Linked DNA regions of Homo sapiens. The protein of the gene in region 1 interacts with the protein of each later gene in a pairwise test. Each region holds a gene or a part of one and is shown in the gene's direction. Other genes may lie near its edges.

Region 1 (7,159 bases):
TGAACATAAAGCATCGGAGTGTACCAGCTTGTTGGGGGTTGAATATGACCTTGACAGCTGGGGTGAGCCTATGCATGGGTGTACAAAACAAGAAGTATGGTTATTAAGGGAATGGTGCAGTTTTGAAAGAGCCATGGGGGAGTGGTGTTGTGTGCAGGACAATTTTTCAGGCCAATTAATGTTTTAGGACAATTTATCTCACAATAGAGGGTAGGCAAGATTTCTGGAAGAGAAAGATGGGAGAGAAAGAAAAAGAGACACAAGTGCCATTATATTAGGAAATAAAGCTAGGACTCTAGTAGAAAGAGTTAGATGCCAAAGATGTATAAATATATAAAAGACAAAAAAATTTAGGACTTGGTGAATAAATGTAGAGGGAGAAGGAAAGGGAATATTTGAGAATGATTCTTCATTAATTGATTAATGTACGCAATCCCAGAGGAAAATGGGAGACACTAAATTGAGTTACACTAATATATGTCAGGTAGCAAGGAGTCACTAAGGTGCTGATGTTCAGATGGCAACTAGAAAGATGAGGATGTTGCACAGGACTGACACTAGCTCTGTGGATATCGAGCCGTCACCAATGTATTGGCCAAGGGGATGAGTGCATGATTTGGTAACTCCAGGAGATACTATATGATGACAGCAGGGGAACAAAGTCTTATTTCTACATTTGGATGATCGCAGCAGGGAACCAAAGATGAAAGATAATAGACTGACCAGAAAAGTGGAAGGAAAAAAAGTTCAATGCAGCGTCACAGAACCAAATAGAAGAGTTTCAACAGCAATAATCGCAGAAAATATTTATGGTTTCTATTATATGTCAAGTACTGTTAAAAACTTTACATATATTATTTTGTTTCATTTTGTCCTCACAATAATTCTATGAAGTTAAGATTAAGTGGTTAAAAAGTACAAAAAGCAAGTATAGAATATGTGATTGTTGAAAAAGCAAAAGTCATACAATTGTAGAAGTCATAGAAGTTAACATTTATTGTTTGCTATGTGCTACCCATTGGGCTAAGTAGTTTACATTCTGTCCTATGAGGTAACTATTATTATCATCATTTTTAAAAGAGAAAAGGGAGACTTAGAAAAGTTCAGTAACTTCAAGGTGTATGAGACTAAGCTGCGATTAGGCAAATAATCAAGGATCCCCATTTTATTTTGTATTTGTTAATAGCTGTGAGTTTTACTTTAAAAAAGGCTTTTAAGTTACATAAACATGCCCCAAATAATTAATTCATGAATATATATCCTACTGTGCAAGGAAGACTGATTTCATAACTGAAAAATTTCAAGAGGTATTAGATGTTTTCCTTCTGATTGCACAGGTAGTACATAGTTGCTATGGGTATTAAAGTCTGCTCCATATGTTTTTTATGTGTTCTAGCAGCTTTTATTCTTTTCAAGAGCAGTATTCTACATAGTCTGGTGTCAGTTGTAAAATTTCTTATTGGTGTCATGATTTCTTCTTACTGCATGCTACACAGCATTCTTTTCACAAATTCAAATTTTACTTAATGCTATTTTGAGAAGCACAATCAGGAGTCAAGAGCTGCAATTATGTGCTAGTTTTGATTTATAGCTTTCTTTCAGCATACAAGAGAAGAATAACAATAGTGGAACTCACACAATTTCAGTGTAAACCCCAAACATGAACAAGTAGAGTATTTCATTGTAGTGACCTCTAATTTGTAAATTATAACAGTTAAAATAATTTTAAAAAGGAGAGTATGGCAGGAGTCCTGAAGAGATAAAATTCATAGATGCTACATTTCTTTGGAAGATATTTTACAGATTCTGGCAAGATCCTGTGTAGTACTGTTCTGCTGAGGAATAGCCTGCTGAGCTGCTAATGGTAATAATGTGAGATGTTTGACAACAGAGGAGTGGAGTTAAGAGTGGTTTTGACCTGCCCATTGAATGGAGTTAGCTAGTGTATTTTTATGTTTCTTTTTCTAAACTTCTAAATTAATGTAATTTTTATAAAAATCATTTGATTCTCTTCTTGGAGCCAGATATTGAATTCAAAAAAGGTGGTTAGACTTACTCTTGATAATTTTGCAAACCTACTTTTCTTCATTGCTGATTTTGGGATTTGCCTTATATTATTTCCTTTGGAATAATGATATGTGTATCAACGTTTATCTTGATTTTGAAACAGTTTAGGAGAACCATACTTCAAGTGTGTTATTTAAAACACATTGCCTCTTGTTTTCAGTCCTTACTGGTACCTTGATTAATTTTTACTACATACAATGTATCATCCTTCCAAAGCTGATTTCAAATTTAAATTTTATTTAATGCCATTTTGGTATTAATGCTATTTGATTTCTTATGGATAACATAAGAATGGTCAACCTCATAATGAGGGAAACCTTTGAAGTTAGACTTTTTGAATCCTTGATTTTCTTCACCGTGATATTATTATGAATTTCAGAAATTAAAACTTTTTTTTTTTGGTGGGGGTCTGAATTTCAACCAGAAATACAGTCTTCCTGCTCCAACCTTCCAATGCCTGTGTTTATAGGTTTCAGGTCCTGACAGTGTGTCAGGCCATTATGTTTAAAATGGAGGTAGGCCAGCCATAAAGGGACTTTTAAAGGTGTTCACCCACACATGTTTCAGAGATTTAATAACAAATACATAGCAGAGCTCTATAAAAAGTTTTATTATTTTATATATTCAGATAGTTTTTTGGATGCTGTATCCCTAGGCCTTTTGACTTTTGCCTTTTATAATACTAATAGCCTATCCTAAAGATTATCATTTCTGATTTATACTCTGCCTAGTAAACTATATCTGTGCTTATCATTCTAACAAAAAGTATGCTATGTGTGTATTCCAACCAACATTTACTGAACACCTGTTTATACCGAGAACTGTGCAAAATTGCACAAATGTTTTCACCTGAGTCATCTCTTTGATGACTCTCTGGTGCTGCCCTCAGTCCTCCCCCAAACATGGCCAATGAGATAATGAGAATAGCATGAGATAGGGACAGTTAACTGATCCTCAGAATTATAAATCAGCGACATATCCAGGACCATATGGCTAATGAGGTGCTGGGCAGAGATTGCATCTTGAAGTCTTCTGACACCATGCCCTGTGCTTGATTAATGCTAGGATTCTAAACAAGATTCTGTTCCAAACTGCTGATTTTACAGGTGAAGAAATGAGGTCCTGAAATGGTAAGAAATTGCCTGAAGTGCTAATGTTAATTATTCTTTCCTTTCTGAACTACTATGCTTTCTCCTAGCACATCCAAGTGTTTTTAGAAGTAAAAATAGACCTACTTCCTCATATATCTTCACTGTATCATACTGCCTTCCTAACGAACTCATCATTTCCACTAAATGGGAATGATTTCGACTCCTAATCCACTCCCCTCCCCATCCTGCCTCTTCCCTGAGGTCCAGATCTCTTTCTCTAGCTATTCCTGAAATCTCTCCTGAGTGTGTCCGGGGAAAAAACTTAAAATGCAAAGTGTACAAAAATTGAAATTGTTAACATCTTCCATAAAATTTCTCACTCCTCTTAAAGTGCTGAGATTTCTAGGGATTCCCTTTTTAGAATAATTATCTGATATTTCTCTTAGCTCTGACTGCATTACCTCCTTCACTTCATTGAACTTAGAGTCTATAAGCTTTTAATTCCAGAATTTTCAGTTTTGGGCTCTCCCCTGAGTTTAGGATCCATTTGTTTCAGAAGCTTGCTTGATATACCTCTCTGGGTATACTACATGTTTCTCAAATACAATAAGTTCTATTCAAAACTTTGTATTCCCAGCCATTTCCAACAGTATCCTATTTTTGCATTATTGATATTGATTAAAAATTTTACTATGTATTCAGGCTCTGAAGCTAAAATATGTGTCATTTTTTACTCTTCCCTAATTTCAGTCCTCACATTGTCACAGTATAACAAGATTGTCTAAAATGCCACTCAAATTTGGCTTCTTATTTTTGTTCTTAGTTCCGTTGCCTCCATTGAAGCAGTGTCTTAATCTCCAACCAGTGTCTTTCTACTCTAGTCAAGTCACTTTCACAGTAATATAAAGAGCATTTATTGGGTTACTGGAACGTTTCAGGAACTAACCTGCTAAGGTGAAAAGCAGAAAACAAAACAAAACAAAACACAACAAAAAAAGATCCAACCCTTGAATTAGGATGGTTTGTATTATTGTAGGTAAATTTCCATGACTTTTCCCACTTTTATTTATATTTATCTCCTTCTCTTTCTATCCCTACCACCTTTCCTTTTCTTTATGATACAAACTCAATACAAGTAATTTGAATTGAGTAACTTTTATTGATAGCTGTCATGTACAGTGTTTTCATTTATTGATGAGACTCACTCAAATCTCATTCTCAGTTTTTTCAAATACGAAGATATGAAATGTCAATATTACTGAAGGCATTCTTGAACCACTTAAAACGTGTGATGCCTAGTTTTGGGTTAGTTGAATGAGATTTTAGAAAATCAAAAGAAGGCCTGGAGGTAAACTAAATGATGATAAAATATGAAAAAGCGTTTCCATTTGTTTGGGCAGAATACATGTTAAATTCGATTATGTTCTTGGAGTACATATAAATTAAACCTCTTCCTAAAATAGGTTTTTAAACAAAATTATTTCCTTAAGATTCTGAAGGTATTTTAAAGTGAATTTTTAGTGTGCTAGAAAATATTTTATAGCTTTTTGGAAAAGTGGTTGTCAGACCTAATTTAGTACTTTTCTGTCGCCGATAGGTACACACTGGTGGATATTTTGCGTGCCATCTTACTTTCTTTAGAAGCCATGATTGAAGATCCTGAGCTTCAAGTGAATGGGTTTGTTTTGATCATAGACTGGAGTAACTTCACTTTCAAGCAAGCCTCTAAACTCACACCAAGTATGCTGCGATTAGCTATTGAAGGCCTGCAGGTAGGATATGGAAATTACCTACTTCCTTGGTCTCTTGTGTTTGACTTCTCTTGTCTAATGTGTTAGAATGAAAAAATGTCTTACTTACAGAATAACAAAAACAAAAAAAATCTGTAGTTTTTGAGCACAAACATTAAAATACTAACTGAAGAAAGGATTATAGAAGAAACGCTGAAGGAAGAGAGTTTGTGACACTAGTACAGTGCTCCCTGTCTAAACAAATACAGGTAATGAGCTGAGATTTTTAATCTGAAAATCAGAACAAGCAACATTTTTTAGATTGTAATGATTAGCTATTTAGGCTTGTTTTTGTTTCTTTTTTCTGTGCCTATTAATTAGCTAAATATTTTCTTCATTATTTCATTTAACCTGGTGAATTTGGGATATGATCAGCAATATGTTCAACTGTTGGAAAGTCAATCAATATGTTTTTTGGTCTCTAAGATGCAAAGATCATCTCTCTAAATTTTCTTTAGACTTCATTGGGTTTTTTTGTGAGTGGGAGGGGCTGTCACATGGAATTTATATAGGAATAGTGCTTCTTCCAGTGAGTAATGTTTAACTACTTGGGAATTAGAAGATGGGAAACATATTATTATTTAGTGGTCTGTCATAAACCTGCTATTGTCAAGTTGCTTTTAACTTCCAGGGTGTCCTTCTATTCTCTCTCTTTGCTTTATGCTACTTTGTGTACAATGCTTATGGAATTGATTTTAAACTTCTAAAAATATTTACAAGTTAGTCCTTGAGTGATGTAATTCATTAGACTGGGGCATCAATGTTGAGTAAGCCCAAGTCATCTAGATTTTTACTCATTAGTAATTTCTGACTGCATCTATACACACCTAAATTGATAACTGCTGACCTCTTAAAAGTGGGCAACTTTTCCAGGTGCTGGAAATCTTCGATTTCTGCCTCTGGACTGAATAAGACACACTGATGTTTCTTCTCCATATAGGTTTTTCCTGATGTAGGCTTCCTGACTTGCTCTTGGTGAGACAGCCTTGCTCCTCTCTTATCTTAAACAATGCTTTTTAAAAACCTCCACAGGGACAGTTAATACAGGATGGTAGACAGCATAAGATAATGCATGTTTGGAAATGTGTATATCATATAGAATCAGTCCTAACTCTGCCCTTTTTCCAGCAATGTATATGGTGTTCTTCAGTTTGTGAACAAGATTGGTTACCACCCACTGTGTTACCTAACACAGAATGGTAACCTAGCCTTTTATAATTGTTATCCCTATTTAACCTGTGTCTTCTCTTTGCACTAGAGCTAGGCTAGGCCTTCAGCTCCTGAAGGACTGGAGAACTCATATTTTTCTTTCCCAAGAAATTAAAAAAAAAACACTTCAAGAATAGACTCTTGCTATTTTCCAACCTACTTTATGGAGTTTTTTAATAATACTGTGATAAGTCATTGCAGGAGAACAAACTGACAATTTGGAGATGTTTGGGAGCTTCCTTGTTAGCTGTAACTACTATCAGAAGTTCTTTAAGTGCTACCTGTGAACACCAAGGAACTACACTCAGATGAAACCTCTGTGCTTATGTCTAGTGAAGGAAATAATCCCATTCTCTGCATGGACCTGTAATGGCTGCACATTTGGAGCTGCCTTCTCTCTGTTCCCCAAAAATATCTCAGCCCCTTTCTCCTTTTTCCCAGAACACAAGACAGAGTAAGAAGGGTTGATTCCTCCTAATTCCCAATTAAGACGCCACTTAAGAGAAAAAAGCTCTTCCTGGGAATAGATTTGATGTGTTACTAACCTTTAAACTCATTTTTATTTTAAGTTCAAATTGACTTTTTAATGCTATATAATTACATCTATACCTATGTCTGTGTCTGTATCTGTGTCTGTGTCTACTCTATGTATATCTAAAAACAATGGTAATTCTGAATAAGAATATAGGATTGCTAGAAATGTTCCGTTGTGACATGCATGATCTCATATTTAGTCTCGTACTGAAGTAACACTTTCTGACTTTTTAAATCAAGTCACTGTTTTACTTTGCATTTGCTATGTGACAAATATTGTGTACCACTATATGTTTCATTCAGAATATGAATAAACATTTTTTTCAATATCAAAATAAGACCACAAAATGTTTGAAGTAAAGATACATACACAGTTTTAGGTTGCTAAACACAGCCACCACCATGCCAAGACCATCAACACCACAACAGTAATAAACCTCTTCCAGTTAGTCAGTAAAATGAAGAAAT
Region 2 (6,018 bases), on another chromosome or scaffold:
GGTAAGTCTCTCAATGGATTTACCTGTGAGTCCTGCAGACCCGGGAAAGGTCTTTTTTTCTCCTCCCGGGAGCTCTGTGGCTCCTGTGCTGGCCTGTGAAGGTGGAGTGCCAGGCCGGGTCACGGGGGCATCCAGGACAGATGCCCTGGATGTACCTTCAAGGAACCTTCACGATGCTTTGGGTACAGTGCACAAAGCCCCCGCAGGGCTTCGAGTAGCACCTGGATCTCAAAGTGCAGGTCTCACCTGCCTGCATGAGAATCACCTGGGGCTATTACTGAACTTGCAGATTCTGGGACCCACCTTGGTCTCCTGGAAAAGGAGTTCTCTGGGGCGAGGGGGATCCTGCATTCAGCTAGGCTGCCCAGAGGGTTCCGGCGCAGCCCCAAACTCTGAGCCCCAATCACTGATTTCAATTTGCGACTTCAGTGACCTGACCAATAGCAAAGATGAACCCTCTGGTGACTCCAACCAAACAGTATGAAAACATGTGCAGTTCAGGTCTGATTGCACAGACTCCAACTGACACAGATTCCTCAATGGAAATGCACAGACAGAGACGGCAGAACTGGGTAATCCAAAATGTCTTCCATTTGAAGAAGGCATGATCCCCATTCATTCATAAACATGAATACATTGCCACTTTACCCTTAAGAAGCTCCATTCTAGAACGTGCATTCTAGTAATTGGGGCTGATATTGCCCCCCAAAGGAGTGAAAATTTGTTTTGGCGCTGGTGGGGGGTGGGGGCGGTGGCAAAAATTCTTATTCTTTCTATGTAAAAGCACAAATGTACATATGGTACGGAAGCAGAGGCGTAGTATGTCTGTGGCATTACAATTTCACAGCAGGGGTGCAATTAGGAAAAAACTGTCTAAAAAGTCTCCTTAGGGAGCAATAATAATAATAAAAAAAGAAGATCTGGAAACACTGGTCTGGAAAGAAAGGCAGTCAAATAAATAGTTACAAAGCACTAATGTGACTACTTTAACACAGAGATGTGTGCAGTAAGAGAGAAGTATTTTTGAAGGCCTACTATGTGTGATAATAATAGTCACTATTCATCAAGTACATCAAGGACTTACTCGGTGCAAGCACTTGCTATGTGCTTTGCAGATGGGACTTGACTTTTTTTTTTTTGAGACAGGGTCTCTGTCAGGCTGGAGTGCAGTTGCACGATCTCAGCTCACTGCAACCTCTGATTCCTGGGTTCAAGTGATTCTCATGCCTCGGCCTCCTGAGTAGCAGGGACTACAGGAGCTCGCCACCACGCCCGGCTAATTTTTGTATTTTTAGGAGAGGCGGGGTTTCACCATGTTGGCCAGACTGGTGGGACTTTACTTTTTACAACAAACCTGGGAGTTAGAAACTACTATTCCCATTTTGTAGCTGAGAAAAATGGGCTCAGAGAGGGGAAGTGACTTGTCCAAGGTCACACAGCTGGGAAGTGGCAGAGCAGGGATCTGAACCTGGGTCTGTGAGTCTCCAAAACTCGCATTCTTTCTGCCACACCAGGCCGTCTAGAATATTCCTCCTTGACTTGGGAGTGCAGTCAGACCTCATGGGCCTGCTCAGACATTCTCACAGGTAGTCTCCAGGACACACTTCCTCAACTCTCCACCCACCAAGGAGGGAAGAAGGAGGCTTTTGTGAATCAGGAATAATCAGACTAACGATATTTGTCCTCACCCTTGGTAACCAACTGAATCCTTCCGGGGGCAGGGGGACACAAAGCTCTCCCCTAATGGTCATTCACAAACTCCCCTCAACCTCCCTGAGCAGGGAGTATTATTACTAATAGGAGGAGCACACAGAGGTTAAGTAAGTTACTCAATCACAGAGCAATTAGAATTGGAGACATTTCCCAGACCTTCATTCTTAATTCTTGTTTCTCTTCTTCCTGTCCTTTGATCATATTCTTCTCTTCTCAGCTGCCCCTGGGGAAGATAGGAAGGGGCTTCAGCAGCAAAGATCCCGATTTCCATGATGACTATGGCTCTCTTCAAAACGAAGATTGCGGAGACGATGACCCCCAGAGCAGGCTGGAACAGTGCCGTCTGGAAGGCTACAACAGCCTGGAGGTCACCAACGTGTAAGGAACTGGTGGCTCCACCAGACCCAACGTGAGAGACCCAGGAAGGAAGAGAAGCCAGATGGCCCCAGGTGTCGTTCTCACTGTACATAGCGGCCGCAGGCTGAGGATGTCCCTTGCTCCTGGGCAAAATCCCGATGGACTCTGCGGTTTCAGCTCCACAGCGCCCAGGAGAGAGAAGACACCAGCCCACCTGTCTTGGGTGGGCCATGGACTTTCCTGTTCAGCTGGAGATGGGCCCAGAGGACCTGTCACAGTGTCCGGCCCTGCCTCCATCCAGGATACACAGGCTCCACCTCAGAGTGACCGTCACTGTGGAGCAGCCAAGCAGTCCCTGGAGCCTTAAACGGAGCTGCCAAGGTGGGAGGAGGCCCACAGTTCCCTAAAACACCCTTCCGGCGGGAGCAGGGGGGACCCCAACCCCACACCCCAGCGCCCAGTGCATTGGCAGAGCCGGGTGCAGGAAGTGCTGCCTCTTGCCGAGACGTCGGACAGGGCGGGGGTTGGGGAACTCTCGGCTACAGCATCTTACCCTTGACTGAGAACTTGGGTCCTGACTTGGCTCACTGAATCTCTCTTGGGAGAATGCAAAATCCTTCCACCTGAAAAGCTCTGTGACACATGGGGGTGGACGTATTGAAGAGCTGTTTGCCGATCCACCCAGGAGTGGCTACGCTGAGTGGGGAGCCGGTGAATGATCCGTGCAGGAGTGGGGCTTAGCAGCCACATTTCTAGGAGATGCAGATATCCTATCACCAGAATGAAAGCTATTGGGACAACAGGATCGGGGATGACCGACGGCCCCATATGGTGAATCTCTGGCCTGTGGTTTGGCTTTACTGAGATTCCAAACCCCACTATCTGCACTCCGTGACAGTGGTATGGAGTGTGGCAATGAGTTTGGGGTCTGGGGCAGGGAAATGCTTGACATTGTTAACCCAACAAACCTTTGTTGTGATGTCCCTGTCACCTGAAACATAGGTGACATAGCTCACCAATGTCCTAACCGAGACACAAACTCCACAGAGCAAAATCATTTGGTATTGGTGGGGAGAACCCCAGCCCTTTTCTTGACCTGCCACTGTTATGCTGTGTGGCTTCTTCCCAGTGGCCTCACCTCTCTGTGCCTCGATGTCTTCATCTACGATACTTCTGGTTCCCTCCCAGGGACATCGTGAGGATTAACACTTGCTAATATCTGTAACACAATTTGTAACCTCTCAGGAGACAATGGGAAGTTATGGGGTAGCTAATTTCCCATTTACAACACAGAAATGATATAGAGCTAGTTCGCTCCAACTCTTTAGGTTGAAGCAGTGTGCAAAAGGAAGAAAAGAAATGTTTAATGTTCAGACCTGCCAAGAGCCTCCAACAGGGCTCAAGAAACATATAAATCCCATGAGCACAGCCTTGAAAACCAGTTTGACTCAAGCCTTCGGGCCTCAGTTCATTGACCAGATGACAGCCACGTGATGATTAGGGAAGGACGGATGCATTGCGATTCTGCTTACACATCGGGTTATCAAAGCGAGTCACTTGTTGGAACCATGATGCTCGACCTCCTTCAAGGCCGTTTGCACTGGGGCTTGAGTTTCCAAGATTCACAACAGGTGTCAGCCTCTGAGAACCCTCAAAGCGTGTGTTCTTCAACCTGGCAAATTGTTTCCTCTCATGGGGGAAGCCGAGCTCTGATGAACTTGAGAATTACACCTCTCTCATGCCGAAGACCGTGGTGTTCCCCCTAATGACATAAACGCAGCCTTTCTTGCTGTCTGAGACCAAATGTCTAGTTGGTAGACAGGTGGATGTTTGGCCTCCTAAGGGCACACTTCTGATCCTGGGCCCCAGGTGGTGAATCTCTGGCATGTGGCTTGGCTTTGTTGAGACTCCAAATTCCATTATCTTCATGACATTCGGCCTCATCCATAGGGTCCTGAAGCTGCAGTCCACAGCTCAGAAAGGAGAGGTGAGACCTCCCTCCAACCTGGTGCCACAGGTCTCTCCCAAGCCACATCCAGCCTGGATGACCTGGGACCCCAGAAACTGCCGTTTGGGAGGCAGCAACAGCAACGTGCCCAGGCAGGCAGTTATTCCCACAGAGTGAGCCAGAATTGTAGCAGGGCACTTGAATGCAGAGCTGATGATTTGAAACCAACGTTCACCCAACTTGTCAGAAATGGCACTTACATGGTTCGATCTTGCTGGAGACAAGTGGACAATTGGGGGTCACTGGCAGAGACAGTATTGCCCAAAATGTTCACAGCAGGAGGCCAGCAGGCCTGAGGCAACACGGGCAACCGCGAATGCCTCTTTTGGTTTAAATTATGCCATCACAACCCTCTTTCACCCATGAGGCTCCCCATCCCTGACAGCCAGGTGAGCATTTGGAGCTGGTTTCTCAACATGAGGATGGGTTGGTTGTTAAATTAACAACCTCCACAGTATCAGATTGAGTGAGCTTTGTCTGCTGGAAAAACCTGAAACGTCAACTCTGCTTCAAGGTCGGCAAGAAGAACAGAAGGCGGAGACTTGGCAGAGAGACTCAAGCTGATTGTCACAGGCTACAGAGGGGCCAGCTCCAGAACAGTGACCAGCTACATCCTGTCCAAGCAGCCCGAGTGTGGTCTTGGTCCCTGCAGGGCAATGTGGGCATCTGGACCTGGGGACGATGTGGATGCACTTCTTGGAAAGCTGTTGTAGCTTGTGCCTGTGGGTGGAGAAGGCACCTGCCTGGTAGACTCTCAGCTTTCTGACCCCCAGGAGCCTCTGCGAGGCCCCTTTGTCCTTGGCTGAGCCGGACCTTTCTTTTGGAAATCTGTCTGTCTGTTGGCATCGCTGTTTTCAGACCCCAGGCTGCAGAGGAGGGGAGAAGCCACACAACAATCTGGACCCAATAAAGTGGAGAGAAGGGCGTCTCTACACAGCCCGGCCAGCGTGGAGGGCCCCAGGACAGGGACCCAAAAGCTTGACGTCACTGAACAGGGCTGGGTACTGGCAGAACAGGAAGATTTGGCCAGAGGTGACCTCAGTGTTCCCTCCAGGGGCATCCAGGCCCCTCTGACCTGGGGAGAAGAAGGCCCATGCTCAGGCCCACCTCCCTCTTCCCATCAGAGCCCATGCGTCCTGGGCACCACCACTTCCACTCTGCTTTTCGAGGCTCCGGAGGGCTCTTCCTGCTGTGAAAGGAAAGGAGAAGAAAGCCTGTGGGCAATGGCAACCTCTGAGTCTGGCATTCTTGCCAATGGCTGGCCAGCGAGGAGAATCTCCCGAGCCCTGACACACAAAGGCATTTTGTGGCTGCAGAGGAAATGGGTTGGCTCTGAACAAAGATGCAGTTTCTAGGGCCGTGGCCCCAAATCGCTTCCCCGAGAGTGAATTTTAACACTGTAACAATAAATACTACTGCACAGCACTTTATGGCAGAGGGGGCTTTTTTCTGTGTTTTCTCATTTAGTGTTCCCAGCAGCCTCTTTGTGAGATTTTGAACCCATTTCACAGATGGAGAAGCTGAGATCAGAAAGGTGGAGGGCCTTGCCCAGCTCTGTAAAGCTAAGACATCCCAGGGCAGGGACTCAAACCCAGTCCATCTGCCTCCAAATCCCAGGATCATCCTCACAATTACACACTCTCCCAACCCTCACCCCCCTGCAATGTTGGCAAACCCCCCTCCCCCCACCTCCCAGCATAGGATTTACCTTAGCAGGCAGCATCACTCAAAATGCAATTCAGGTGCACTCGGAGTGTCTGGAAAAGTCCCTGTGGGGGCATTGCCTTCTGCCCTGGGAACTTGCAGTCAGGAGTGGACACCTGACAAGTCCCCTCCCCTTGTGTCATTTGTGTCACTCCGTCACTCCTCCTGGGGGCACTTACATCTTCAGATTACCGGACTGGATTTCTAGTGGTGGGACGCCCCAGCACAGTGCCCTT

The links.
Region 2: the proteins of CLVS2 (region 1) and KAZN interact in binary tests that used the Homo sapiens proteins (3 or more experiments, as listed by UniProt).

Annotation. Positions count from the first base shown.
Region 1 is NC_000006.12:123,006,230-123,013,388, forward strand, and holds part of CLVS2 (clavesin-2), read left to right. Parts: intron 1-4,755; coding exon 4,756-4,930; intron 4,931-7,159. UniProt on the Homo sapiens protein: Required for normal morphology of late endosomes and/or lysosomes in neurons. Binds phosphatidylinositol 3,5-bisphosphate (PtdIns(3,5)P2).
Region 2 is NC_000001.11:15,112,541-15,118,558, forward strand, and holds the end of KAZN (kazrin), read left to right. Parts: coding exon 1-1; coding exon of another isoform or gene 2-484; exon of another isoform or gene 485-1,930; coding exon 1,931-2,095; 3' UTR 2,096-5,503; downstream 5,504-6,018. UniProt on the Homo sapiens protein: Component of the cornified envelope of keratinocytes. May be involved in the interplay between adherens junctions and desmosomes. The function in the nucleus is not known.